Regions from separate parts of the Homo sapiens genome. Here all the other regions are linked to region 3. Evidence: fine-mapped expression QTL. A gene starts in region 3. Each other region holds a variant in brackets. All regions are shown on one strand. Distances are from middle to middle. Region 1 overlaps RNGTT (RNA guanylyltransferase and 5'-phosphatase). Region 2 overlaps GABRR2 (gamma-aminobutyric acid type A receptor subunit rho2). Region 3 holds the start of PM20D2 (peptidase M20 domain containing 2).

Region 1 (10,307 bases), 400 kb after region 3:
AGAAAGTGAGGGAGTTAGCCAAGCAGATAGTAGATATGAGGGAGAAGCACCAGATGGAAGAAATAGCTGGAGCAAAAGATCCTGTATAGGCCTTGGAGCCTGTGTGGCAAGAGATGACTAAGTGAAGGAGGGAGAGAGAAGTAGAAGAGATCGGGCCCTGTATTATCTCATCTTATGGCTACTGTTAGGGCTTCAGCTCATACTCTGAGGGAAGTAGGAGGCATTGCTGGGTTTCAGGATGATAACTGACATTCGATTTGACTTTTTTTTTCTTTTAATTTCCCTTTGAGAATCCCTCTTGGATAGGAAAGGGTCAGGAAAGAGTTCATTGTAGGAATCCAGGCAAGAGTTCTTGTGACTAGGATGGTAACATTAGTAATGGTGAGAAACAGTCAGATTCTGGATCAAAAGATCCAGAAGGTGTAGTGTAGTGATTTTCTTTACTGTGTTAGTTTAGTTAAACTAAAATTGCGTTTTCCAGAATTCTCTTCCTTGTGTGGTACTAGATGATAGCTAGCCTTGAGAAATGTGTGATACTTGGAAGGCAAAAATAAAACAGCAGTCATTACATTCAGATATATACATAATCATTGCTCTGTTGGCTTACCTGTTAGCTTCTGTGAGTCATGGGCCAAATGAATGTATAGCTCCATAGGAAAGGGAAACAGATTCTTCTGCAGGTCATCTACAGCATCAGGTTTAGATAAGATTGAAAACAGACTTGGGTTCCAGTTTGTCTCCATCAGTTCCAGTTTGTTCTCAGGCATTGCAGTTTGTCCTATTTTATGTCCAGGCTTTCTTCCCAACTGTCTGCCCTGCTGTCATAGACTTTAGGCTCACCATCAAACACGGGGATACAGGCTTTTATAGACTTCTTCACAAGCTCCCATTAATGGTCTCTGGTTAGAAGTATTTTTCTGATCCTCCAACTATCTCCTTCAGGATCTTTACTCCCTCGCTTCTACCACAGTAGTATAAGGCCTAACTCTTATAATAAACTCCTGATTCTATATCACTGGATGGTTCTGCTTCCTAGATTAAAGCGTAAGTGGTATATTGAGCTGACAGATTTGAGAAAGAGGAGCCATGATTAATTCCATAGGGAAGAATGTGGGATGAGTGGTTTGGGAAAAAGGTTGAGGTTTATAATTGTTCACAGCCATTTGAGATTTATATGATGTATGTATGTGCAGGACGGACTGATAATTAAATGGGAATGTGATAGATATCACCATTCCTGCTTCTTTCAAATTTTGATGCCCACCCCCTGCCCCAACACAATATTGCTTTTGGATTACTATTTTGCCAGGCAAAGGAAGTTCCTAGAGCTTTTCTTTATCTCTTTCTACTATAATGACCCTTAACCCATGTGTAAGAGAGTGCCTATGGGGATTCTGCCGGTTATTAAGTATGTCTATTCCAATTATACATTCAGGAATAGGAGAAAGTACCACAGGGTGAGTCTGTGGACTGACTGGGTCTGCTATGGGTCAAACTTGTGTTAAGACTTCACCCATCACCTGATTTCTTTAAGTCTTCACTTTGATGTGTTGTGTCATAGTAGCGTGTTGTGCCCCAAGAGTTGGCATCACTTCCCTGGAATCAGTATAGAGTATTTCTGAAAGGTCTGGATATTAATTTTTCTCCATGACATAATCATTCTAGTACAGGGGTGCCCAACCCCCAGGCCAGACCAGTATAGGTCTGTGGCCTGTTAGAACCAAGCTGCAACAGCAGGAGGTAAGTGGCGGAGGAGCAAGCATTAACACCTGAGCTCTACCTCCTGTCAGATCAGTGGCGGTATTAGATTCTCATAGGAGCACAAACCCCATCGTGAACTGCTCATGCAAGGGATCTAAGTTGCGTGCTCCTTATGAGAATCTAACTAATGCCTGATGATTTGACATGAAATCTTCCCCAAAGCATTCCCCCACCAACATTTGTGGAAAAATCATCTTACATAAAACTGGTTCCTGGTGCCAAAAAGGTTGAGGACCGCTGCTCTAGTAGATAGCAATAGGCCCTTCTGGGGATGATTTGGTACATAATTTAAAGCATATACTTGTGGCAAAACTACAGGGTCTTTCTGCAAGGGGACCTGGCCTCCCCTTGCATCAGGGGCCTTTGGGTGTTGGGACTGACTTGTATCTGAAAACTGGGTAAGAGGGGAGTGGCAGGCCACAGCTGGACCACAGGGAGCAGCCAGTTGGTTGTGAAGAAACTTGCTGGAAAATGTTGGAAAATCAGAGTTGGTCTGCTAGAAGCCACTCTTTGGTGGTGGGGAAATTTGCCATAGAATACCGGCAGGCTAGAGCTGGTCTGCTAGAGCCTTGCAGGTGAGTGCCACCAGGCTTCCCACACAATATTTAGCTGACAACTGCATCATAGAAAAACATCCAAACCAGAACCCAGGCTATGCCCTTGTAGTGTCCCTTCACTGCTCTGTACTCACAAAGCCTGACATTTGTACCTGCTGGCAAAGGAGCAGGGTTACAGGGTCCTGATCTTGTATCACAAAGCAGGGCAAGAGGGTAGCTTTGGAAATAAGAGGCAGTAAATTGATAACTTCCACAATTAAAATTGATAACTGGTACAGTTATATTTGAAGTATATAAGGGGGCCAAGTTATTATTTTGAAAGCCAGGGCAAGAATCTAGCCTTTTTTTCTTCTGCTTTTTTTTTTTAATACGACACATACTTCAGATAGCCAAATGGTAAGTTTCTTTTTATGAAAGTTTTCCAGCCATGTAATGAAGAAGGAATAATAGACTATCACCATTTTGTAACTTCTAATGTATTTAGACCGGCACTCTTCTATAGAAATATGTGAGTCACACATGTAATTAAATTTTTCTAGTAACCATAATAAAAAGTAGAAACAGGTGAAATTAATTCCAATAACATATTTTATTTAACTCAATATATCTAAAATGTTGTCATTTCAACATCAGTGTAATATGTATCACCCCATGTGTCTTTTCCCTTTGCTGATTTTCTGTGCATCCTTTTGTTGTAATAACTTGTAACTGTGAGTGCAACATCTGAGTCCTTTGAGTTCTTCTAGGGAATCCTCGAACTTGATTCCCAATACCTCGATTTGGCTTTGTCTGGTACTTTCTCATAATTAGATTGAGGTTACGCACTTTTTGCAAGAATACCACAGAAATGATGTGCTGTTTTCAGTGTGTCATATCAGAGTAGATGATATAGATATGTCTCATTACTGGTAATGTTAACCTTCATCACTGTTAAAGGTGGTATATGCGGAGTTTCTCTTCTTTAAAGTTGCTGCTTTCCTTTTTCTAGTTAATAGGTTCTTGGAGAGTGTATGCAAATATTCTGTTTCTCCTCAAACTTTCTCCTACTAGTTGTAGCTTCTATTAGCAGATCCTGCGTGCAAAAATTATCACTGCAGTGTTCCTTATGGTAATTTTTTATTTCCAGGAAAAATACTTTGTTTTAACCTCTAAACTGATTAGAACTATATATACTTAGAAACAATAAGTTGGTTTTATTTGTAACCAAAAATATTCATAATTTGATGAATTTCCTTAGCTTGTTATTTATATTAAGCATCATATTTGTAATGTTTCGTTAACTTCCCAAATACTTGAAATTTATCTCATTTTAATTGTCATGATAGCAGATGATTATAATCCTGAGATTTTAAGCTACTTTCTCCTAAATTACTCATCTTGTTTAGTATATGTTATAATAACAATGCATTGAAATTCTTTGTCTTATTAAGAATCAACCTCATATCATAGCATAAAAAACTATTCATATGTAATAGCAGAAATCAGGTTTTCTAGAGGAAAAGAGCTAATGTAATGATTAGTTTTCTCTTCTTCTATTGTCTTCTGTATTTATAAAGAGTAGTAAGAACAGGCCGGGCACGGTGGCTCATGCCTGTTATACCAGCACTTTGAGAGGTTGAGGTGCATAGATCACAAGGTCAGGAGATCGAGAATATCTTGGCCAACATGGTGAAACCTCATCTCTACTAAAAATACAAAAATTAGCCGGGCGTGCTGGTGCGCGCCTGTAGTCTTAGCTACTCTGGAGGCTGAGGTGGGAGAATCGCTTAAACCCGGGAGGTGGAGGTTGCAGTGAGCCAAGATCAAGCCACTGCACTCCAGCCTGGATGACAAGAGCAAAACTCTGTCTCAAAAAAATAAATAAATAAATAAAAGAAAAATAAAAAGGAGTAATAAGAACAATCCTATTCTTACCAACTATTTTAGAATGATTACTAGTTGTTGACAAAGCTGTTTTATTTCCTTATGTTAAATCATATAGTCAGGAGATGATGAACTCATGAAAGCTTGTTTGATAATGAAATTTATTGTATAGTGACAAATGCAAATATAAATTCAACATAAAATGTAGCTTAAATATGGTATTTTTATTTCTTTGGGGGAAAAAAGGTGAAGAGTACCAACAAAATGTTTTTAGGCTTTATACTAAGCCATTTTTATTTATCATTTCAATTCATCATACTAAACCTATAAAGTAGATGTTGTTGCTATCTTCATTAAAAATAAGTAAACTATTGGCATGGCTGCTGTGGAAAACAGTATGGTCATTCCTCAAAAAATTAAAAATAGAATTATCATATGATCCAGCAATTCTGCTTCTGAAAATGAGGTTTCAAAGAGATTTATACCCTCATGTTTATAGCAGCATTATTCACAATAGCTAAAATGTGGAAGGGATATAGTGTCTGTAGATGAATGGTTAAGCAAAATGTGGTATATACATACAATAGAATATTATTCAACCTTAAAAAGATAGGAAATTCTGACATATGCTACATTGTGAATGAACCTTCAGGACATTATGCAAAATGAAATAAGCCAGATACAAAAAGACAAGTACTGTGTGATTCCATTTATATGAGATGCCTAGAGACAGGAAGTAGAATGGTGGTCACCAGGGGCTGGAGGGAGTGGGGAATGGGAAGTCATTTTTCATAGGTGTAGAGTTTCAGTTCTACAAAACAAAACAAAACAAAACTTATGGAGATGAATGGTGGTGATGGTTGTATGACATTATGAATGTATTTAATACCACCGAACTGTTCACTTAAAAGTGGTTAAGATGCTACATTTTGTTCTGTATATTTTACCGTAATAAAAAAAA[T/AT]TGGAGAAAAAAACAAGTAAACTTCTTTAAAGTGGTTCAGGAACTTGTCTAAAATCACATAAGTCTTAAGTATAGGAATTAGTATTCAAACAAATCCTTGTTATACTCCAAAACTTACTCCTTTTCTATCATAGTCATGGTTTTCAAACTGCTCCATGAACAATACAGTGTTTTATTTGAGTGAAGAGTCTTCACTGCCCTTTTGTGCATTTTTAATACAAAAATTAATGTTTACTTCTTATGTTATTATTTCAGATCTAGCTTTGGGAAATATAGCGTATCTTCACATTTGGAAATTGTAGGACTAGCCCTGTAATGCCTATTTCTTCTGAGACATTGCTTCTGTAATCCATATCTTTTTCTCCAGATGAAAGGTGACGTCTTAAACTGTGACTTAGCAAGCCACCTATGCATTTGCCTTGCATGTAAATATAAATAATAGGGGTAACATTCTATTTTTCTTCCGAACTATAATTCTAGAAAACTTCTCTCTAATTGCTACTCATAAGCACCCTTTGAAAAGTTTTTAAAATCACCTTTACACTTTAAGTGAATGCTGCCAAACTTCAACAGTTAGCTATTGTAATGTAATCTAATATTGGAATTCATTTAGTGCTTACTGGTAAATTTTCTCTCCTACCTGGGACTAACTCTTCCAAGCCTTGTCAATAGATCTGGGTCACTTAGCCACAGCACTCTTTGTCACAATCAGAGCATGCCGTGACTTCTAACAAGCCTTTCTTTCCCCCAACGTAGTCTCGCAACTTTTCCTTTGAGATTACAAAAGGAAAGATGAAAGAAGAACAGATTATTGATGGCAATGATTTAAAAAGCTATCATGATATGTTAACTTGTCATGTAACTGTATGTGTAAACTTCAAATAATTTTTGAAACAGATATGATATGAGCTAGTTGTTTTAGGTCTTTTAAAAACATTCTTAAAAGAAATGCCTTTCCATTGCATATTTTAAATATATTTGAACAGAACTGATTAGCTTTTAAACAAAAAGTCATTTCCTCTCAGTTGTCTGTGATTTCTCTCTTTGGGCTATTGACCTTCCCTCCTTTTTGGAAGGTAAATGCTCAACTTTCTACCTTTATCCGATACATGTTAAAGTATTGTTTGTTTTGGCTTTGCTGTGTATATGTCCTATTTGTCTGAATCAGCATTTTTGCTTTACACCATATGCCCATAGAATTCAGGACCTCTTGTTTTTACAGTGCAGTGTCATCATGCTGTAAAAGAAAATGCATTTAATAAATGTTTTTTAACATCAGTTAATGAAGTATGTATGTTTCAGCTTTCTTCTTGTAATGTTTTAGATTTAGGTTATTTTTATGATCTAGATCCTTATGAAAAGAACACACGATCCTACTAATAGCAACGGAAAGATCAGGTCGTCCTACCAGTCGATAATTATTTGGGGTTATTTGCAATTATAAAGCTAGTATATATTTATGAGGAGATGGAGAAAGAAAACAAAAGTTCAGAGCCATGAAAAGGAAAAGTCTGCCCCCTACCCATTACCCACATATAACCACTATTAATAATTTTTTGTATCTAATTACTCATTAAATCTCTTGAAAATGTGCTTTCGAAGACTTCATTGCTGGATGTTGGATTGTGATGTCACATCATCTTTCAGCTTTGTAATATGGAGCAGTTTTTCATTTCATTTATTTTAAATTTAAAAATTTTTGAAAATAATTTTAACTTTTATTTTACATTCAGGAGGTAATTGTGCAGGTTTGTAACATGGGGTATATTGTGTGATGCTGAGGTTTGGGGTATAATTGATCTTGTCACCCAGGTACTGAGCATAGTACTCAACAGTTTTGCATCCCTTTCCCCTCTTTCTCCCTTCCCTTGAGTCCCCCATTGTCTATGGTTACCATCTTTATGTCCATGAGTACCCAGTGTTTAGCTCCCACTTATAAGTGAGAACACGTGGTATTCGGTTTTCTGTTCTCACATTTAGAATAATGGCCTTCAGCAATATCCATGTCGCTGCAAAGGACATGATTTCCTTCTTTTTTATGGCTGCGTAGTATTCCATGGTGTATGTGTACCACATTTTCTTTATCGAATCCACTGTTGATGGGCACCTATGTCGATTCCATGTCATTGTTATTGTGAATAGTGCCACGATGAACAAGTGAGTGCATGTGTCTTTTTGGTAAAACAATGTCTTTTCTTTAGATATATACCCAGTAAGGGGATTGCTGGGTCAAATGATGATTCTGTTTTAAGTTCTTTCAGAAATCTCCAAACTATTTTCCATGATGGTCAAACTAATTTACGTTCTCATCAACAGTGTACAAGTGTTCCATTTTCTCTGCAGCCTAACCAGCATCTCATACCAGTCAGAATGGCTATTACTAAAAAGTCATTTCATTTCTTTTTTTTAAAAATTTTACTTTAAGTTCCGGAATGCGTGTGCAGAACGTGCAGGTTTGTTACATAGGTATATGTGTGCCATGGTAGTTTGCAGCACCTATTGACCCATCCTTGCCTACGTTCCCTCCCCTCGTCCTCCACCCCTCAACAGGCCTTGGTGTGTGTTGTTCCCCTCCTTGTGTCCATGTGTTCTCATTGTTCACCTTCCACTTATGAGTGAGAACATGCAGTGTTTGGTTTTCTGTTCCTGTGTTAGTTTGCTGAGGGTGATGGCTTCCAGCTTCATCCATGTCCCTGCAAAGGACATGATCTCATTCATTTTTATGGCTGCATCTTATTCTTATTCTTTTCTTTTTTCTCTTTCTTTCCTTTCTTGTTTTTTTGTTTTTTTGAGACAGGGTGTCTGTTACCCAGGCTGGAGTGCAGTGATTTGATCACAGCTCACTGCAGCCTTGACCTCCCAGACTCAAGTGATCCTCTTTACCTCAGCCTCTCGAGTAGCTGGGACCACAGGTGTGTGCTACTATGCTTGGCTAATTTTTTAATTTTTTGTAGAGACGAGGTCTTACTATGTTGTCCATGCTGGTCTCAAATTCTGGGCTCAAGCGATTCTCCTGCCTCGGCCCCCCCAAAGTGCTAGGATTAAAGGCATGAGCCACCATGCCTGATCCCGTTTTCATTTTTTGATCGCTTTTAATTCTGCTGTTCCCTTTCTGAGCAGGTGTAAACTCTAGAGTAGCCCTCTTGCTTTCTCCTGAGTATTCTTTCCTACTTGTTTCACAGAATTCCTTTACTTTCTTCTCTTAGAATTTTCTCTTCCTGCTTCTGAAAAAGGAACATTGTGATTTTAGGAAAAATTTGTTTCTCTGGAAGAAGAGTAGGATGATATCTTTGGTGTCAGCAGAATGGAAGATAACTGATAAATGAATTTTATTGATTCCTCTAAGATGGTATTAATTAGTAGACATATTTTATGTATTACTTTAAAAAATTAATTCTGCTATTCCATAAATTATATCTAAAGGATAAATCCTCATGGGAGCTTCATATAGTAGTTCAAATTTTCTATTTGCTTGGTATAATAAAATTAAACAATGTTAGTTTAGATAAATGGAGCATGTGTTAACATATATATATATATATATATATATATATATATATATATATATATATATATATAATTTTTTTCACACCAGTTACACGGGAGAAATATATCCTAATTCCAAAGTGTGAAATTTGAACTGACAGAATTATAAACATTTTTAACATTTTAAAGTATTTTCAATCTGTTCTGTATGTGATGAGATATTTTTTGAGCCTGTCTTTGTCACATGTTAGAAAATAGTTCCTAAAAGCAAAAGCTCTCTAATTACTTTCTTGTTTTCATACATAAACATAAGTTTACTTAAAATTTTTCTGCTCTATTATTCCAGTGATGTTTTTCTGTGTTTCTGTATTTATTTAATGATGCTTTTGAATTTCTTTAGTGTTACAGGAAAGCTGTTTTCTCTTAGTTTTGCCTTCTCCCTTTGTTCTTCATTTCCCTTGCTTGCCTCAAAAAAACACTTACCAGCTGGAAGTGTTTAAACTGTGAATTGCTGGGTATTGGCCCAACATGAAGAATCCTCTAATTTAATAAGCTTCTTAGAAGAGTTCTTGGTTCCATAAATTTGCTTCACCTTTTGTCTTACCAGCTTGTTAATAATAAGAATAGTATCATTTGTGTGTTTAATGCTTCTAATATGCTTGATTTCCCTTGTATGTAGTTTATATACATTATCTCATTTAATCAAGCTTTTTAATGATTTCTGTTGGCTACAGTGAAAATTTGAGAAAGTTTTTTTATCTTCTTTATATAATTGCATCACATACATTAATAACATAAAGTATAAATTGGTGTCAGTTTTCTAAAGTAAGGAATAATTTTAAGATATAATTATTTTACATTAAGAATTTTAATTTAGTAATTATTTATACATCATTCATTTTAAAATTTCTTTTATGTGAATGCATTATTTCTTCCTGTTTTGGAAGGGGTGTGTGTGTGTGTGTGTGTGTGTGTGTGTATTTTATTTATAGACTTTAGTTTCCAGAACAGTTTTAAATTTACAGAAAAATTGAGTAGATATTAATAGAACAGAAAGTTCCCATATACACCTCTTGGGCCCCCCACAAACAGTGTACCCTATTATTAACATGGCACATTTATTACAATTAATGAACCAATATTGGTATGTTATTATTTATTTATTTATGTTTTGAGACGGGGTCTCACTCTGTCACCCAGGCTGGAGTACAGTGGTGCCATCTTGGCTCACTGCAACCTCTGCCTGCCAGGTTCAAGAGATTCTCTTGCCTCAGCCTTCTGAGTAGCTAGGACTTACAGGCATGTGCCACCATGCCCAGCTAATTTTTGTATTATTTGGTAGAGACAGGGTTTCACATGTTTGCCAGACTTGGTGTGTTATTTTTAACTAAGGTCTGTAGCTTATTCAGATTTCCTTAGTTTTTACTTGATGTCCTTTTTCTTTTCCAGGATCCCATCTAGAATACTGCATTACATTTAGTTGTCATATCTCCTTAGGGTACTCTTGGCTGTGACATTTTCTCATACTTTCCGCGTTTTTAATGACATTGCCAGTTGTGAGAAGCACTGCTCAAATGTATTATAGGATGCTCCTCATTTAGAATTTGTCTCTTGTTTTTCTCATAATCAGACTTGGGGTATGGGTTTAGGGAAAGAAGATCACAGATGAAGTGCGATTT
Region 2 (10,307 bases), 110 kb before region 3:
ATAGTCTCTTTCCTTAGAGATCTTCTCTAAGTTGTGCTCATTCTACATATGGCATGATGTACTTCTGCTCTTTCCCCTCCTTCAACCCCGCTTACCCCACAGACCCATTCTGTTTGCTGTTGCTTTTACTCTTAGGCATATAAGGCAGGGTCCAGGAGAGGCCAGGTCCAGAACTTTCAACTATCCTCCTCCAGTGAAGTTACACAGATAGCACTAATTTTGCCCAGCAATGACATGTAGCAATGTGCATGGAGTATTGCCAGCCAGAGAAACTTACCCAGGCTCACCACGGTGTACAGTTTTTTTATTGGGGTCGGTCATGGATTTATAGCTGATTGCCCACATGGCTGACTTTAGTCTTTTGCCCCTCCAGAGGTTAAGCTGGTACCTTGAGGTCCAGGGCACCTATCATAAATCACATTGTTGGCATAGACTATCTGGTGTGGCCCAAGGCCCCAGTAGACAAAGACCCTTCTATCTCACAGGACATTCCAAGGGCATAGAGGTTGCTTCCTAGTAAAGGTTAGTCCTTTACTACACAGCAACTCTTGTCAATTCCCTATTGTTAATGTTAATTGCGGTGTTACTATTATATATTCAGGCAATAAACATTTTAAAGTATCTCTGCACTAGGTACATTGGGGTCCAAATTAAGAATAAGAGTAGTCGAAGCTCTCAGAGAAGGAACTAGTAAAGGAAATACCACACAAATATCTATAATATAAGATTAAGAGTGTTTAGTGCCTCAGTAATAGTTCAGTGTGAGATGGGAATTCCAAGGGAGGAAAAACAGTCCCACCAGGGAGACAGACCTCATGGAGAAAGCAGCCCTGAGATGCCCCTTGAAGGTCAGGATTTTAAGAAGAAGAAATGGAGCAGAATGCATCCTAGATCTGGGCTGTCTCATATGGTAGCCACTAGCCACATGTCTATTTAAATTTAAATTAGTAAAAATTAAAAATATTAGCCAGGTGTGGTGGTGTGTGCCTGGGGTTCTAGCTACTCAGGAGGCTGAGGCGGGAGGATTGCTTGAGCCCAGGAATTCCAGGCTGCCGTGAGCTGTGATCAAGCCACTGCAGTCCAGCCTGAGTGACAGAGCGAGACCCTATCTCTAAAATAATAATTATTATTATTTAAATTAGTTGAAGTTAAATAAAATTGAAAACTCAGTTCCTTGGTTACACCATCCACACTCAAGTGGGCTTAGTAAGCACAGTTGCTAGTAGCTACTGCACTGGGCTGGGCAGCCTAAAGACCAGGAAGCTCTACCAGCCAAGAGACCAGCTTGAGCGGACGCATGGGGAGAATGGGAAGGTTTGCCATTGCAGAGAACAGGGTTTGTGGGCAAGTCATTCATTTTGGCAGGATCCTAGGCTGTGATAAGAGGAGGTGAGCGACTAGCTTTTTCCACAACACTAGGGATCAAGGCAGGTCCCCACCATGCCGGTGCTTATGAGGACAGCTTCCCCACTATGGAGTTGCTGGACCCAAGACTACTAGATTTCCCAGTCTCACAGACCAATGAAGAACAAAAATGCATAAATATGGGTAATTGGGTGGTACAGGGCATCTGGACTTGTTTAGAAACCTTTTTTTCTTTTCTGAGACAGAGTTTCACTCTTGTTGCTCAGGCTGGAGTGCAATGGCTTGATCTTGGCTCACCACAACCTCTGCCTCCCGGGTTCAAGCAATTCTCCTGCCTCAGCCCTGGAGTAGCTGGGATTACAGGCATGCGCCACCATGCCTGGCTAACTTTTGTATTTTTTAGTAGAGATGGGGTTTCTCCATGTTAGTCAGCCTGGTCTTGAACTCCTGACCTCAGGTGATCCGCCTGCCTCAGCCTCCCAAAGTGCTGTGATTACAGGCGTGAGCCACCACACCCGGCCAGAAACCTTTTATCTATAGAGACTCTCCCAGGCCACAGTGCTGCTCGAAGAATGATAATTCTATTGTCATTAAATATATCATATTGCTTTGCTTGTAAGTCTTATTTAATTCCAACCCTTCTCTGCTTCTGACTGCATTGTTTTCATGCATTATGGCTCATATAACATAGTTGCCTGTTCACAAATTAAAACAAATATTTATTTTTGCTAGCTTCTATGTTAAACTGGAGTTAATTCTATAGCAGACATATTTAGAATCATAAACAGTGTTTTATCATGCAGGGCCATGATACAATGACACCATTGTATTTAGCATTGCCTTATTACAGTATACTAGTCTGACACTACTTGAGAAAAGTAGGAAATTTAAAGAGGTAAAGTGGAGACAACATTGGTAGGAGTAGAAAACAGGAACTAAGGAAATAGTGAGAACATGGGATGATTCACCCTGGAGGCAGGAAGACAGAGAAGCAAACACAATTGTTATCAGGAATGCATGAATGATACTTTACTTCACTGAATCTAAGACATGGTGAAATGTAAGATGCACCCATATTTTATGTACTGAGAAAAAATACTAACAATCAAATTCTGGAATGCCAATGATTATAATATGAATCCTGATTTCACCAATATGAAACTGTGAAAAAATGTTAATGTTACAATAAAAGAAATGGGTTTTATACAAAAACTGGTGATTGGACATACTTCATTGACACCAAGGAGCCAACATTTATTTAGCACTTGTCCTCAAGGTCTTGTGCTGAGGTGAGGGATGGTGGTGACGGGTAAAGAAATGAATGGGAAACACTCTTCAGTCATTAAGAAGCTTACACTCTAATGGGTGTGGCTCAAAGGAGGGAATGATCACAGAATTTGAGGAGTGTTTTCTGATAAATATTGAGTGATGAATAAACACAGCTTTGAGTACTAGAAAAGGGAAGGAAGGGATGATAACGTGGCAGAAGGAAAGCTCAGGTATGTTCAGGGGTCAGTGAATAGACACTCTACGGAATGTACAAGACATAAGATAGGAAAAGTAAGTTGGAGAAAAAGGGCTTTGAGCAGGGAAGTTATAATCTTTTGGAAAATCAATTAATTTGCCATCAGAATATAAACTGGTGTAGTTTTTAACCATTTTGGTTGCCAGTGACAGAAATTCAACTAAAAATGGTACAAATGAAAAGAAGATATATTGGAAGGATACTCCAGGGGCTCATAGAATGAAAGGGGATTTGAAGGCAGCAGGGAAGCTCTAGGGAATTAAGGGTCTGGAATTGGGTTTCAGCATGTCCCTTCAGGGTCATATCTCCATCCAACACTCTGTCTGTCTTCATTCTCACCCACTGCAGACAAGTTTCCTCCACCTGCTGTGGGTGGGTGGGTGAAGTGGCCTTGACGGTCTTAGGCCCACAGCTTTCTAGTTCAATCACCCAGTGTCAAGGGTCTTTCTATGTTTATTCCACTTAGAATAAACCTGGGGAATGAATTTAACTGGTCTGGGCTGGGCCATGTATGTTGAAGGTGATCAGATCTCTGTGATGTGTTTAAGTTGAGAAAGCTAGAACTCTTCAAAAACACTTTTATTTGGTTCCACCTTTTTGCAAACATCTGTTAAAGGGAGGCCATGAATTTGAAAAATGAAAGGCTGCTTAGTTTGAGGAAACCAGTGAAGAAGGAAAATAACATTAAAAATAGTGGAGAAAGTTCATGCTAAATTCAGTAATGTGTGAGGGCCACAGTCTATGTGTTGATGTTCATAGAGACTGGAAAGCCAGGAGAAAGAGCTGGCATGCGTGGAGGATGAGGAGTTTGAGTTTCACAAGGAACTAGAAATGTCAAATAAAAAGTAGCAAATGTTGGTGTGAGCCTGAGAGGGAGATAAAGATTTGGAACCATATCCTAGATATGCTGAATGAAGCTATGAAAATGGCCAAAACTGAAGGGGAAGAAGCAGCAGACAGCAGGTCTGTGGACAAGAGCTCGGGAGTATATATTTAGGTGGGAGGAGGATTGTGGTAGAAGCTGGGAGGAGGGAGTTTCTCAACAGGAGGAGGGTGGGGCTGGGAGCAAATAATAACCATAAAAACAAGAAGGGTAAAGACTGAACAGATGTGACAAGGTGTAGGCAGGAGGCTCGGTGGCCACAAACACCAGGTAGACAGCCATCCTTGGCTGTCTTAACCACAGTGATTGAGGAAGGTAGAAGTAACATGTTCAGAGAATTATGTTACTTATTATGGAAAGACTATTATAGATTCTTATATTTTTGAAGGCTTAAAACATAACATGGTAGCAGACCCAGCCTGAATAAGGGCTGTGTTCTCAATGGTTGGTTCCCCAAACTATTACACTGGAATTTGGGGGAGTGGCACAAGAACAGCGTTTATAACTGGATCATCAGATCCAGTCGTCACAGAAGATAAGAGAACAGCCATTAAAGTGACCATATGAGGTAAATGGCAAGTATAGAGTGCATCCTCCGCTCAGCACCAGGCTAAACGCCAGACGTGTGATTCCTGATTCAGTTCTCACATCAACCCTGCTGTGGTAGGAAGGACTTTCCCGTACTCCATACCTGCTAAGCTGTGGGGCCTCCCATAACTGCAGTCAACACATCTACGTAGGTGGATCTTGCATGAAACAATCCATTTCTCATAGTATTTTCAGGAAAAAGGTGATTCATTCCCCACTTAGATGGACAGAGAAGTGGTTAGAAAGAGCAGATAGAAAATCTGGGTTATGCTGAAACACATCTACATGGTTATCTCTACACTCAGGTGAGAACTTGGAGTTAAACCAGGACATCTTGGTTTAGCTTCTTGAGGCTGGAAGCTGGCTTTGAGAGACACATACATATTCAGGGCAGCCAGGGCAGAGGCATTATGGGTTTCCATCACCGACTCTGTTAAAAGCACTATTCATTTAATCAGTGCGCAAGGAGAATCCACAGCCGCC[G/A]CCGTGACCACCACCATTTGAAACGTCTTGTCTTTTTCATTCCATTGCAAAGGAACGGAGGGCTGTGGCCTAGAGGATTAGCACCGGTATGGAAGCAGCTGACTCCCCACTCCCACCAATCACTAGGAAACGGTACCGGTAAAGAAGGCTGTGTGCCTTACATGTGTCTGAGGACAAGTGTGCTGGACTCTTCTCATGGAGAGTTAAGTCCTGTGCTAGGAGGGTCTCATGGCCCAGCCTACCCAGCCTCCAGAGCCATCCGGAGCCTGCTCATATCTGCAGCATAAGAACATTCCCCATTAGCAGATTGGATAAAGCACTCAGTCCTGACCCTCTGACCTTCAGATGGCATTTAAAAAATGACATTTGGGCCAGCCATCGATAACATTAGGTTTCGGATTTATTTTAAAAGCTAAATTGAAAAATAAACCTTCGCTGTAGTACTCTGTTGTTTAATCTAAACTGACCAGGTTAATGGTGGTGAATACTCTTCTGCACTGTGTCCATTTAGCCCAACATGGCTCAAATTTTAATGTGCATATGAATAACTTGGATATCTTCATAAAATGCAGATTTTGATCCAATAGTTTTGGGAGGGGACCCTGGATTATGTATTTCTAACAAGCACCCAGGAGATGTTGGTGCTGCTGGTCTGCGGACCAGGCTTTAAGTAACAAGGCCCCAGAGACCCCTGCTCATCATTTGAAGTGAAACTCAGATGTGTCACCTCCCGTCTGTGGCATCCTGACAAGAGAGCTCACATTCCCCTCCCAAGGCAGAATGTATTATTATCTCATCTGTGATCCCAAAGCATTTTGTGCATTGAGGCACTTCCTTTATGTTGTGATTATTCTACTTGAACAATGGTTCCCAGGCTGGCTGTATGTGAGTCACCTGGGGAACTTTTGAAAAAGTATCAGTGCCTAAGCCCAGCCCCATTCTGATTTTATTGTGGTCTCAACTCTCTCTCTCTTTTTAAATGACACTATTTTTAAAAGGCTGTTAAGGGGGATCACTTGAGCCCTGGAGTTCGAGACCAACCTGAGCAACATAACAAGACTCCTCTACAAAACAGTTTAAAAATCAGTTGGGTGTGGTGGTGTGCACCCATAATCATAGCTACTCAGGAGGCTGAAGTGGGTGGGAGGATTGCTTGGACCCAGAAGGCTGAGGCTGCTGTGAGCTGTGATTGTGCCACTGCACTCCAGCCTGAGTGAAAGAGTGAGACCCTGTGTCTGAAAAAAATAAAGGCTGGTACTAAAGTCTGAAATAAATTTCTCTGGGAGAGTATTGTCTGGACATGGTTTCTAAACTGTGTTCCCTGGAAACAAGGGGTTCTCTGGAGGGGCTTTAAGGTCTACTCTGGAGGAATGGGTGGGAGACAGAAGAACAAGAAGGAACACAGTGCATGGGGACAAGAGATGGAGTCAGCCAACCAGCCCAACAAAGAATACAGAGCCTACTATGAGCAGGTGCTCTTCCAGGAACCCAGTGCTTTAGTTCTTCCAGGAGCCCAGTGAAGAAGGATTTACAGAGAGAGAAGAGGTAAAGGGGGTGAGTTCCAGGGCCAGGGCTGGAACTGGGGCTTCTGTCCCCAAGCCCTTTTCACTTTTCACAGTTTCCTATAAGAAAGCTACGGAGTTCCAGGAAAAAAAAAATGGCCCAAGGGAGGTTTTAGTCTTCTTCTACCAACGTCCTTTCAGATCATTCCAGAAGGCACCTGACTTCCTGGCCGCAGGCACGGAAATCAGGGGTGGGAGGGTCAGACAAGCACCCACAGAGCTTGGATTTGCCTGAGCTGCTTGGAAGAAGCTTCCAGCCCTGGATGCTGGGCCTCTGGTTGCCAGCCCTCTTCTGGCCTCCGGCCTTCACCTGCCTCTTCTTTTCCTTTCCCTAAGAAAGCACCGCTGTTCCACCTCCGCTAGGAAGCTGGCAGCTGCTGCCTCCACATCTCCAACTCTTTCCTGGTGTCTGCTCTACCATGGCATTGGAGAGGCTGTAGAGTGGCACCTAGCCACAGACCTTTCTCATCCTCCTGTGAGCAGAAAGGGTACAGGAGGGGAGGTTGCCCCAGAGAATTTAACCATGGATGTAATAAGAAGCCCTAGAAGGTAAGCTATCTGAGAGCAAGGATTTTTGTCCATTTCCTTAATTGCAGTAATTTAGGGTCTACAACAGTGCTTGGCACATGATAGATGCTCAGGAAATATTTATGGAAGAAATGAGTGAACTCTTCTTGCCCATGAGGCACTGGGGACTGTGCTGAATGCTTACTTACATTGTGTCATTTATTGTTAGCTACTGAGGTATCTCATTCATGTTCTTTGTGGGGGCAGGAGCCTGGAGATTCAGAGGATGCACTTTGCTAGCTCTGTGGCCATGAGCCATTTATTTACTCTGAGTTTTAGTTTCTTTACGTGAAAAAAAAAATGTGTGTGTGTTTGTGTGTTACACACACACATAATTCTGGCCTCTCAGAGTGGATGTGAGAAGTGAGTGAGCCAATGTACCTACCCAGCCCAGGCTGGGTGTAGTGGCTTATGCCTGTAATCCCAACACTTTGGGAGCCTAAGGGGGGAGGATCACTTGAGCGCAAGCAACATAGTGAGATCCTGTCTCTACAAAAAATATTTTAAAATTAGCTGGGCATAGTGTCATGCACCTGTAGTCCCAGCTGTCTGGGAGGCTGAGGCAGGGGGATTGCTTGAGCCCAAAAGTTGAAGGCTGCAGCGAGCTGTGATTACACCATTGCATTCCAGCTTGGGTGACAGAGAAAGACTCTATCTCTAAAAAACAAAACAAAACAAAAACTAAAATACTCAGCCCAGTGTCTGGTCCCTGAGGAAAAATGAAGTAGAAGAAAGAGATGAGGAGAGGGGAGGAAAGTGAGGAAGGAGGAGAAGAGTGTTGCCATGTTCCCAAAAGGGGAAGAGCATTGCTAAGTTTTAACTTTGCCAAATGAAAAGATTTAAAACCACCCACAACTCAAAATATTACTTCCATCTCTTATCACTGTCATTTTTTTTTTTCTTTGAGAAGGAGTCTCGCTCTGTTGCCCAGGCTGGAGTGCAGTGGCATGATCTCCACTCAGTGCAAACTCTGCCTCCCGGGTTCAAGTGATTCTCCTGCCTCAGCCTCCCGAGTAACTGGGATTACAGGCATAAGCCACCACACCTGGCTTATTTTTGTATTTTTAGTAGAGACAGGGTTTCGCCATATTGGCCAAGCTGGTCTCGAACTCCTGATCTCAAGTGATCCACCCCCGCCCTCACCTTCGGCCTCCCAAAGTGCTGGGATTACAGGGGTGAGCCACTGACCCACTGTCATTTCTAAAACAAAAATTTGAACACTGAAACTGTGGGAAGGTCTGATTTCAGAATATATGAAATTCTTCCCAAGAAAACTCAGTTTGCACTTTATCCTGGACATTTTCACCAAAAGAACAGATGAGGGCTGGGCGCGGTGGCTCACGCCTGGAATCCCAGCACTTTGGGAGGTGGAGGCAGGTGGATCACCTCAGGTCAGGAGTTTGAGACCAGCCTGGCCAACATGGTGAAACCCCGTCCCTACTAAAAATACAAAAAATTAGCTGGGTGTGGTGGCACACACCTGTAATCCCGGCTACTCAGGAGGCTGAGGCCGGAGAATCGCTTGAACATGGGAGGCGGAGGTTACGGTCAGCCAAGATCATGCCACTGCACTCCAGCCTGGGCGACAGAGTGAGACTCTGTCTCCAAAAAAAAAAAAAAAGAATCCAGAGTGAGATAAACAGCTTGTATAATTTTCTGGATGTTCCTTCTTAATAATAAAATAATACAAGAAATAAGACAGCATTTAAAAACAACACTGTGAATAATAATGTATGACTACATGAGTCAGTAATCTGGGCCATTTGTACACCTGGGATTCAAGTTACTGCTTATCTTAAGGCCATAGTGTCCAAGAATAATGACATCTTTCGTTTTCCACAATACTATTCTGCCCCTATTTATTGCATGTCATGTACACATGCCACATGAATATGGGCATCTAAAGAGTGGGAATATGTAGTCATATCTGTCATATCTGTGTTCTGGGAAACTTACCTTTTCATAAACTATTACCAGATACAGCTGACAACTTTTATCGAGTTATGATTCGCATGCACTAAAATATACAGATCTTAAGTGTATATTTCCATTCGTTTTGACAATGTGTGTACCCATTAGCCCACAATCTACAGAGATAGAACATTGTTGGCACCTCATAAAGTTCTTCCATGCTCCAGATTAATCCTTATAATCACCTTCCCTTACTTCACAACTACTGTTCTGAGATCCATCGCCATTAGATTGGTTCTATCATTTCTAAAACTTCACATAAATGGAATCATGAGGTATGTACTCTTTTATGTCTGGCTTTTATTCACTCCACATAGCATTTTTTAGATTAATTCATGTTGTTGCACGTATCAGTTGCTCATTTTGATTTGCTGCTGAGCAGTATTCCATTGTATGAATAACCAGAATTTCTTTATCCATTCTTCTGTTGATGGACATTTGGGTTGTTTCCAGTTTGGAGAAATAAATCTTCTTACAATAAATTATTTAAAATGATTTTAAAATAATAAATGTATTTATAAATAAAGCTTCTACAGATATTTGTGTACAAGAGTTTGTGTAAACATATGCTCCTATTTCTCCTAGCACGTACCCAGGAGCAGAATTATTAGGTATTAACTAGGTCAGTGAATTTTTTTTAAGAAAGCATTTTATTGACATATAATTCACATGCCATACAATTTGCTTATCTAAAGTGTACAATTCAATGATTTTTAATATATTCACAGAGTCATGTAACCATTACTGCAATGAATTTTAGGATATTTTCATCACCCCAAAAAGAAACTGCCTGTCCTTTCATCCCCAATTTCCACATTCCTCCCCTCCCCTAGCCTTAAGTAACCATTAATTTACTTTCTGTTTCTATAAATTTGCCTGTTCTGTACACTTCATATAAATGGAATCATGCAATGTATGGTCTTTTGTGACTGATTTATTTTACATTGTGTAAGTTTTCAAGGTTCATTCATGTTGTGGCATGTATCAATACTTTATTCCTTTTTAATTGCCAAATAATATTCCATTGTATGAATATACCACATGTTATTTATGATATTTGGTTTGTTTTTATTTTTGGCTATTATGAATCATGCTGCCATGAACATTTGTGTACATGTTTTTGTGTAGACATATTTTTTCATTTCTCCTGGGAATAAATCTAAGAGTGGAATTGCTGGGTCATATGGTAACTCTATATTTAACTTTTTGAGGAGCAGACTATTTGCTAAAGTGTGGACCATTTTACATTCCTACAAGCAATTGATGAGGCTTCCAATTTATCTGAATCTTCATCAACACTTACTACTGTCTGTCTTTTATTATAGCCACTCTAATGGGTATGAAGTGGTATCTCATTGTGGTT
Region 3 (10,307 bases):
AAGAATTTTTAAGAAAAGTGGATTAGTAATTTAAAAAAAAATGAATTCTTGATCTTGTTCTCTTTTTTTTTTTCTTTTTTTTTGAGATGGAGTTTCACTTGTCTGGTGGCCAGGCTGGAGTGCAATGGCACGATCTTGGCTCACTGCAACCTCCGCCTCCCAGGTTCATGCAATTCTCCTGGCTCAGCCTCCCAAGTAGCTGGGATTACAGGTGCCCACCATGCCTGGCTAATTTTTGTATTTTTAGTAGAGATGGGGTTTTGCCAAGTTGGCCAGGCTGGTCTCGAACTCCTAACCTCAGGTGATCCACCTGCCTTGGCCTCCCAAAGTGCTGGGATTACAGGTGTGAGCCACTGCACCTGACCTCTCTTTTCTATCTTAAAAGATGACCAATGAAGGCCAGGTGTGATGGCTCATGCCTGTAACCCCAGCACTTTGGGAGGCCGAGGTGGGTGAATCACTTGAGGTTAGGAGTTCAAGACCAGCCTGACCAATACGGTGAAACCCTGTCTCTACTAAAAATATGAAAATTAGCTGGGCGTGGTGGCGCACGCCTGTAATCCCAGCTACTCAGGAGGCTGAGGAAGGAGAATCACTTGAACCTGGGATGCGGAGGTTGCAGTGAGCCAAGATCGTGCCACTGCACTCCAGTCTGAGCAATTGAGTGAGACTCAGCCTCAAAAAAAAAAAAAAAAAAAAAAAAAAGAGATGATCAGTGAGAAAGCTAAGAAGGCAGATACTAGGAGAAGGTCTGGGGTCAAGTGCGCTGACTTCAGAACCAAGACCACGAAGCCTAACCTTAAGTCCCAGAAGGGTAATGAGCTGCAGAGCCTGCCTGCATATGCAGGCCCCTTCTAGTCAAAGGCAAGGGCAGAGATTTCTAATCCCCAGTGTTTTCTAGAGATGGACTAGTTTACCACCACCCTTGAAACCAAAGTTCAAAGATTCCTCCTACTGCCACAGTACCAATTTCCAGTGATAAGAAGGAAGATACCCTAATAGTTAAAATGATCACCCTTTGAAAACAGGGCCTGGTAAGGTGCTAAGAGGTGGGATACCCGGGTACAATCTAGAAGCACTGCTGTGATGGTTCTGCTATCATTCCCTCAGTACCGAGCTACTTCTGAGGAAAACACATGGTTTTGCTGAAGCAGCTGAGCACTGGCTCCTTGTGCCTGGACCATTAACTACTATAGTTACTACTATGGTTGAAATTTCTGGTATAAAAAATCCAAACCACTTCAATGATGTGTGCTCCTAGGTACTAAAAAGTGAGTTCTTCAACATAAAGAAAGACAAATAAAAGGTTTCAGCACCAGACAAATCGGAAAAGCACAGAATGAGAAGTTCCACAAAAACCATAGCTACTCATGTTCCATATTCTCTCTCAGGACATAATTTATCCTCTTTGCAAAGAACTCAAATTAAAGTAAATAAAATGGATAAGTGTGGTTTCTTCCCATAGCTAATAGAACGATCTCTCGCAAATCTATTCAGTTGCAAAGACAATTTCATATGAAAGGACAGATGTTTTCCAGACACCAGATTATTGACAGTTCAAAAGAGAACTTAATTGTCAACATGTTTGTTATTCCTATGGTTTCTAAGTGCTACTATTTTAATACTCCAATTATGAACACCATAATGAATCTCAATTAGAAGAGGCTTGCCAAATGTCACTCCATAGATCAAGACATCTTGTTATTGTCTTTCAATTTACTTCTTAAATATACAAATGTGGAGTTTTCGTCTCTGGTTTAGACATAAAAGTATTCTATAGCCTGTGTTCCCCTAAGAAGTTTATCTTCAACTTGATTACTCACTCATGTTCAGCCATATCTGGTAGATAAGCAGCATTCTCTTGTGATGGGTGGGCCATAAAAACAACATCAAGATTTGTAAAAGCCCCTGCTTCAATTAAATCAATTTTGCCACCACCATCTTCTTCTGCAGGGGTTCCCAGGACAACTACCTAGAAGGAAATACTCATGTCAGGGAAAAACAACAAAATCCTCATAGGAATATATCAAACAGGTTCACCTGCATATGTATTCACAATCTACATTAAAGTCCTTAACCTATTAAGACAGGTTTTGTTCTATGACGCTTACGCAATGGGCATCAACAAATGGTGCTAAATTAATCACAAAATGTACATTGTTATACCAACTTGGTGCAAAGTATGTACTAAAGACACTATAAAAAGCTTTTCCCAATTTTACAAGTCAACTAATGGCAAAGATAAAAAAAAATACTACAAGTTTAGTCCCTCAAAATTTGTTAGGATTTGTTTCAAAAAGGTTCCTCTCGACTAAGCCTTTCAGTGTATGTATGTATATAATTATTCTTAAGTACTTTACGAGTCAGAAACTTTCTGTTAACTTACTACTTATCCTCACAACAACCCTGTGAGGTAGGTGGGTGATCTCTATCATCATTTTACAGGGGGTGTTTTTGAGGAATTGAGTGAAGTGTCTTGCCCCAGGTCACAGAGCAAGTCTTCAGGCAGAATTAGGATTAGATGTCCTGATCTTCTGGCCTAAACTCTGATTCCTTACTGGGCTACCTATTTTAAAAGTCTGAACTCATTAATCCTTTATGAAGAACATTAAACAAGTCTTAATGCCACAGTTAGAAACAGCCAACTATTACACAAACTTACTAATTCGATTCCACCAGTTCAACCAGGCAGATTTATTGGTCACCAAACACCTAATTAAACAAAAGAGAACTTTACAGAATAAACATTTTACTTTGATATTTAAGCTTAACTGCTTCAAACAATTTTAAAAATCAAAATAAACAACTAATATATTTTCAAGATCATGTATAAGAACACAATGAAACAAGCTGGAAAAGTCTTGGCTTGCAAAGGAAATCAACTTAAATTCCATTTTCAGATAATTAATAACTTAACCTTGCTAAAATTGAGAACAACCATTTGAAGTTAGAAGAGTGGGCCGGGAGCGGTGACTCATGCCTGTAATCCTAGCACTGTGGGAGGCCGAGGTGGGCGAATCACCCGAGATCCGGAGTTCGATACCAGCCAGGCCAACATGGCGAAATCCTGTCTCTACTAAAAAATGCAAAAATTAGCTGGGCGTGGTGGCACACACCTGTAATCCCAGCTCAGGAGGCTGAAGCACGAGGATCGCCTGAACCCGGGAGGCGGAGGTTGTAGTGAGCCGAGATAGGACCACTGCACTCGGCCTGGGCGACAGAATGAGACTGTCTCAAAAAAAAAAAAAAAAAAAAAAGAGTGTACATTTCTCAAAGTTTAGCTTTTTTTTGGCGGTTCTACAGTGCTCAAACTCTGACATGAAGCCGCCGCTCTTTTTTTTTTTAAGAGGAGGCCTCGCTCTGTTGCCCAGGATGGAGTGCAGTGGCGCGATGTCGGCTCACTGCAACCTCTGCCTCCTGGGTTCAAGCGATTCTCCTGCCTCAGCCTCCCGAGTAGCTGGGATTACAGGCGTGAGCCACCACGCCCAGCTAATTTTTTTTTTTTTAATATATTTTAGTAGAGACAGAGGTTTCACCATGTTGGCCAGGCGGGTCTCGAACTCCAGACCTCAACTGATCTGCCCACCGCTCTTCATTCTTGACCCTTAACTCATTAAATACGATATGTCTCTCGCTGACTACTCAGAACCTTTAAAAACGTGGTTGAAGCGAAATCTCTCCAGTGTTTGTGACATGGCAAAGCATGCTTCCCCCAACCCAAACAAAAACCTAACAAATGCAAAAACGAGCCTCCAGAGACAGAAAAAAGAAGGCAGCTAAAGTGAAAAAGCCACAAAAGATGTAGTGTTAGGATAAAAGAGGAAGGTTACTGACACTGGGGGAAATGAACTAAAGAGTATGAAAATAAAACATTTGTTTTCCCCTTAACTGAATGACGATTGAATCTTAGCTCATAGTGTAGAATATACCATCTGGAAAAGCAGAGTAAAACAGGATTAAACTTGCCCTACGACAAACATAAACGACATTTCCCTGTTTAAAGAGTCGAGGTATTTCTTAAAATCATAAAACAAAAAAATTAAGACTTAAGGATGAACTCATCTATGTATAATGCTCATTCACTTCCCCTTTATTTGTATACTTCTAGGGGTCTGGTGGTTCTAGCGACTGAAAATTCCTATCCAAATACCAATGACTTGAATCACATTTTCTAGGACTGCCACAAACAAAAGATTTATTTGGAGACGAATAAAAAGGGGCCGTAGGATTACCTACAAGAAGTTATTTCCTCCTGAGATTGATGGCACAACCTTGTCAGCAAATTGCTGTTGCCTCTCTCAGTTACCAAAAATAACCCGTAACAAACACCAGGCTTGGGTGTAAGTTCTTTCCTAAGGGAACAACTCAGCAGAGCTGTTTATAACTAGAGAGGAGGAAACAATAATCTGCAAGATGTCGCCAGGTCGGCAACGCGAACTGACTTTGACTGGGGGTTCAGCTCTGCTCCTGCGCCGAGGCGAGGACCGCAGGTTTAGCGCGGTCCCACACACACCTGCCCCGGGCGGGAGGGCACCGAGGCGCGCGGGACGCACGAGAGTCCCGCCCTTCCCGGGTCGCCCCCGACCCGGGCAGTCGGATAGGGTCCCGCACCCGGGCCCCACCTCACCTTCACGGGCGGAGGCGGCCTGGGGAGGCCCTCTAAGGCCCCCCTCACGCCCAGCGCGGCCGCCGCCCCGACCTCAGCGATGAGGTTGTGGCCGCAGGCGTGGCCGATGCCGGGCAGCGCGTCGTACTCGCAGAGGAAGCCCAGGTGCAGCGGGCGTGGCGTGGCGCTCGGTGCCCGGGCCTCCGGCGGCTCCCACTCGGCGCGGAAGGCCGTGGGCAGCTGGTAGTGCGGCTGCACTGCCCAGGAGGCCGCGGGCGGCTCCCGCTCGAAGAAGTGCGTCAGCACGCGGTGGGCATGGTGCTCCTCGTAGGCCAGCTCGGGCTGGCTCCAGATCGCGCGGCTCAGGGCCCCCAGCCGCTCGGCCGCCTCGTCGATGCACTCCGCCGAGCGCAGCTTCAGTAGCTCCAGCTCGGAGCGGCCATTGCACGCGCCCCCTTCCACGGGCCGCTCCCCTCCGGGCCTCATGCTGCCCAAGCCCGCTGCCCTCTGCGCCCTCTCGCTCCCTGGCTCGGCCGCAGGTAGCGACCGCCCGCGCACGCGCCCAGAGGCCTCCAGGACCCCGGCGGAGCGCGCACGCGGCCACACAGCTCCCAGGGCACCACCCCCAGTCCCGGGGCCGCCCCCGGCGCCGCGCGGGAAACGCTGGCGGCCGCTCGTACCCTACCAGGCGCTCTGCCCCGCCGTGGGGTTTTGGGGGTGCTGTGGAGAAGGCAGGGCTCGGGACTCTTCCACCTCCTTGGCTGCTCTGGCCTTTGAGTTATGCTCTAAGATTATCGATTACTTTTCCGTTGTTGCTTATTTCCCACAGCAGCAGAATGAGAACGGTTATTAGTTAATAGCCATCAGAGACAGACCAAGTGGAACACAGTCCTCGGAAAAACGCCACTCTGTAGCATTAGTAATTAAAACCTCACAAGGTTTGTATTTCCTGAAGGAGGCCGTCAGTGTCAATGCTGTACTAACGACGGTACTGTACGTAAGTTTCGGTACTGCCCCCACTTTCTTCTCCTTGACATTGTATTACTAAAAGCTGCAGCTACTCTCTACAGTTTTCTCATTGGTTACTAATGTCTGGAACAGCAGCTAGATTATGCAGTAAGCTCTTGGTATGTATTAGCTATTATATAATAATTTATTTGAATAGAGTAGAACTAAAAATTTGAAATGAGTTAAAACCAAAGAGTTAAAAGATTTATGGTAGTAAATATTCATACTGTTTTGTTGATTTGGACAGTTGTCTTGAACAGCTTTGAAAGGGAACATATGACAGGTTTCGTTTATAATTTTAATTGATGCTGAACTCCACTAACATGATATGTGCAGCTGGTGTTACATTATAACTGAGTTTTTTAATTACCCAGTGAAGAAATTCAAGATGTCATGCTCTTGTTTTTCTCCAGAGTGAACCACAAAGTCTGAAAAACTGTTGTTGACGGTATGCCTATTAATAACACTGTAGATGTTTATATTCTGAGGTTTTCCACATATTAAAAGCTTCTATCAGCTCTTCATACCCTATCATCTTTCCTTAATTTGTCTCAACTATGTTAAATGGGACACAATATATTAATGTGATAAACCAAATGAATATTTTGAAAATAAGTCTAAGGGAAGCTAACATGCACGAAGACTATCAACTACTGTTTTTACTACTCTATATGCTAATAATACCAGAGTAAATGTCACATTCCATTCACGTCTGAAAACTTTCTTTCTCAGTTAACACTCCAACAAAAACTCAGCTCTAAAAACAACAAATGTGTTATTAAATTCCTGGGCCCCCTTGGCGATAATAAATCTTTCTCTGGTATTCTGCTGAAGAAAATTACCCTGTATCCACGAGATCCAATATTATCCTGCTCAGTTAGTTGGCTAAAAAAAGGGGAGAAGGGGGGATTGGAGAGCAAAAGCAATAGGTGACATTTGTAGAGCAATTACTCTGTGCTAGGCACTGTTCCAAGGGCTTAGCATTTGTTAACTCATTTAATCCTCACAGCAAACTATGAGGTGGTTAATGTGGTTATTTATCTTCATTTTACAGATGTATGTCCAAGATTATAGAGCTAGTAAGTAGTGGACCCACTGTAGAACAGAAGCCAGAGTCAGCCTCCAGTGGCTGACTTTCAGCCACCATGGTCTATTGCTTGTGTAAACAGACATGCAAATTCATAAATGCATCTCCAGTTTATCTATTCAAATCAGAACCCACAACACTCATTTTGAATAAATTTTACTGCAGCAACTCTGCCTGCTGACATCAGTAGAACCCATGTTTGCCCTCCTCAGGCATCAATAAACAGCAACAGAAAAGGGATGCATATAATTTCATATAGAAGCTGCTATTTATATTGCTTTGCAGGAATTAACAAAGCTGCCACTTGAGGTAGAGGAAAGACAGATTCATTTCAAGCTCTGTTCCTTGTGTATATATGTGGGTGGGTGGGTGGGTATACATGCCCACAGGCACGTATGTATTCAGTTTCTACTGTTGACACCTTGTATTTCTTGCTCATGGTATTTTGCACCCTTGAATTCATTTATTTGATAAACTGTGATAACTTGCTGACCGTTTATCTTCCCCTCCAGGCTTTAAACTCTTTTGTTTTCCCACTGCATTCCCCAGCACCTAACATCTTATGGTCAGCATTTCCTCTGTGTTAATAAATATTTGTTGGCTGATTATTCTTCTTGAATCTAATAAACTAACTGAATAATGGCAGCAATTAACCATTAAACGACACTGACTACCAATAGACATTGTTATGCTTCTTCCTAGACTTCTCAGTCCTTTATGTGGAGCTGGGGGCAGGAAGAATTGCTTCTGGAAGCTGATGGAGTTGGACATGTGGCTTTCTAGAATCTGGTCAGCTCATAAATTCTTACTATTACTTTCATTTGTACCCATAATATTCATACAACTGTCTACCCTATCTATGTGCTACTGGTAAGGAACCTGTATGTTTTTATTAGAAACAAAAAAAAATGTATACAAGCTCCCTTCCTTTAGCTGGTGCTGGATCTGAGGAAACAATACAATATCCAGAATTTAGTATTAAGATGTATAACCTTTTTGGGGGGGTGAGAGGAGTGCAGATAGTTCTCTCTTGAGGACTGGTTTTAAAGTATATAAATGTTCTTTCTTGGCTCCTGATGAGAAAAAAGGGGAAAAAATATATAAAGATTCCTCTTCTTTCCTGGCTGCTTAGAAAACCAGCTGTCATCACAACTGACTCAATAACTTTGAGAACAGGACATTCATGACAAATGAGTGCTGTGGTGGAAAGAGTAGATCAAAAATTTCCTTTACCCTGGAAAAGCAACTAAAATACAGCCAAATTGTACAACTATACTGGGTATTATTTTGGGCTTCAGATTCAGAACTCCTTTTGAAAAGGCAGCAGGCTTTTGTATGGTTTATATTCTTTGAATTAAGATAGAAATAATAAAATAAAATCCCCAACATGGCAAAGCATGAGCTCATGGCAAAGCATGAGCTAAATGAGAAAAAAAAGTTTTTGAAAACAGAAAAAGGAATGGAATGAAAAATAAAATGAAGAAAATTAAAGGTAGAGAAAAAGTAAATAGAAGTACCAGAGAGCTTCAGTGCAGGATTTCAGGAATGAAAAGCAAACAAACAAAAATAATTGTGGGGGGCCGGGCGCGGTGGCGCACACCTGTAATCCCAGCACTCTGGGAGGCCGAGGTGGGTGGTTCACGAGGTCAGGAGATGGAGACCATCCTGGCTAACATGGTGAAACCCCGTCTCTACTAAAAAATACAAAAAATTAGCCGGGCGTGGTGGCACGCACCTGTAGTCCCAGCTATTCGGGAGGCTGAGGCAGGAGAATGGCGTGAACCCGGGAGGTGGAGCTTGCAGTGAGCCGAGATCGCGTCACTGCACTCCAGCCTGGGTGACAGAGCGAGACTCCGTCTCAAAAAATAATAATAATAATAATAATTGTGGGGGAAAGGAATAAAAAGTGCAAAAATGATTTAATCCAAGGAGAGAGTGCAGATATTTCACCAAAAAAATCAAACTTATAATACCTTCAAAATATATGATATTTCCAAAAGTGCATGTGAATCCAGCCTACATCGTTTCAGTTTAACAATACTTGGAACTACAGCAATTTTCTCCTGAACAAAATGCTGGCCACTGCACGATTTGAGGACTGCTGCTGCCAGCATGGAGAAGAAGCAAATCACAGTGTCACTTTGGTATACTGGTCATTTACAACATTCTCCTAAGCATCCCCAGACACACATGCAAACTTGGTTAACTCCAGAAACTTCTCTAGCTGAAACAAACACGTAACACGCACTAGATAGCACATGTAAAATCAATCTGGGCTAAGGTGTTGGAAGAGCTGGTTGTCATATGGCAGAAAGCAGACAACTAAGAGAGTAGGTGAGCAGAAAGGTGAATTTGATTGGGGATGAAGGGACATAGAGGAAGTGTACAACACATTGCTAAGGAATTACAACTTTAGCTGGTTTTGGTGGCTCATGCCTGTAATCCCAGCACTTTAAGAGGCTGAGGTGGGAGGATAGCTTGAGCCCAGGGGTTCAAAACCAGCCAGGACAATATAGGGAGACCCTGACTCTACAAAAAATAAAATAAAATAAAATAAATAGTAAATAAGCCAAGCATGGTGGCACACATTTGTGGTCCCAGCTCCTCTGGAGGCTGAGGTTTGAGGATCGCTTGAGCCCGGGAGGTCAAAGCTACAGTAAGCATGATTGCACCACTGCACTCCAGTCTGGGCAACAGAGTGAGACTTTTGTCTCAAAGTAAAATAAAACTTGGACAATGGCTAAACTATTGGATGTTATTAAGCAGGAGAGAGACAAGATCAGAAATTTGTTCTACAAGAATAATTGATGACTATTTGGAAGATGAATTGGAAACAGACTTAGGTCTGAGATAAGTTAAAAGCTTTTGCAGGCCAGGCGTGGTGGCTCACGCTTGTAATCCCAGCACTTTGGGAGGCCGAGATGGGCGAATCACTTGAGGTCAGGAGTTTGAGACCAGCCTGCCCAACATGGTGAAACCTCATCTCTACTAAAAACACAACAATTAGCTGGGTGTTGGGGCGGGCGCCTGTAATCCCAGCTACTCAGGAGGCTAAGGCAGGAGAATCACTTGAACCTGGGAGGTGGAGGTTGCAGTGAGCCAAGATTGTGTCACTGCACTCCAGCCTGGGTGACAGAGTGAGACTCTGTCTTTAAAAAATAATTTAAAAAATTAAAAATAAATAAAAGGCTCTTGCAAAGTCCAAGGATTCCAGAAACATTCCGTGGGCAGAAATGGCCAGACTTAATTCCTCACTGAATGTCTGTTTAGGTGAAGAAGGTGCTCCAGAGAAAGGGGGAAAGAGAACTGAAGTTTCTCGGGTTAACAGCTGAGTGAATGGTAAAGCCATGAAACAAAATAGGGGAAATAAGAGAGTGAGGGGCAAATTGATGGATGTGCATTAGACACGTGGAGAGGAGGTAGATGCAGTTGTCCAGGAGGAGACCAGCAGAGCACCAAGGAAAGTGCATTTCTACATAGCTAGTATGAGTAATGGTATACCCAGAGGGGAATTAAACCATCCAGGGAGTGAGTGAGTTGAAAGGGAAAAATGTAAGCTGAGGAAACAACCCTGAAAAACAAAAAGGGAATGAGCAAAAATACCTG

What was found. PIP is the estimated chance that this variant, and not a neighbour inherited with it, causes the effect.
Region 1: its variant is the best candidate, but not a certain one, in a credible set for the expression of PM20D2 in lung (TOPMed, PIP 0.80).
Region 2: its variant is the best candidate, but not a certain one, in a credible set for the expression of PM20D2 in tibial artery (GTEx, PIP 0.83).

Annotation. Positions count from the first base shown.
Region 1 is chr6:88,738,140-88,748,446 of GRCh38, reverse strand. All of the region lies in intron 13 of RNGTT (RNA guanylyltransferase and 5'-phosphatase), which reads left to right. Among named protein-coding and RNA genes, the nearest start is that of RNGTT, 220 kb to the left of the region's middle. RefSeq lists a silencer at 4,870-5,070. The variant T/AT (reference allele first, on the strand shown) is at 5,143.
Region 2 is chr6:89,246,734-89,257,040 of GRCh38, reverse strand. GABRR2 (gamma-aminobutyric acid type A receptor subunit rho2) reads left to right here. Exons shown (of 9, transcript NM_002043.5): 9 at 1-2,577. Among named protein-coding and RNA genes, the nearest start is that of GABRR1, 35 kb to the right of the region's middle. The variant G/A (reference allele first, on the strand shown) is at 4,845.
Region 3 is chr6:89,140,930-89,151,236 of GRCh38, reverse strand. It overlaps PM20D2 (peptidase M20 domain containing 2), which reads right to left and starts at 5,182. Exons shown (of 7, transcript NM_001010853.3): 1 at 4,628-5,182; 2 at 1,824-1,972. The coding sequence starts at 5,092. LOC101929004 (a long non-coding RNA gene) reads left to right here and starts at 4,371. Exons shown (of 4, transcript XR_942766.4): 1 at 4,371-5,544; 2 at 7,404-7,490. RefSeq lists a silencer at 4,436-5,365.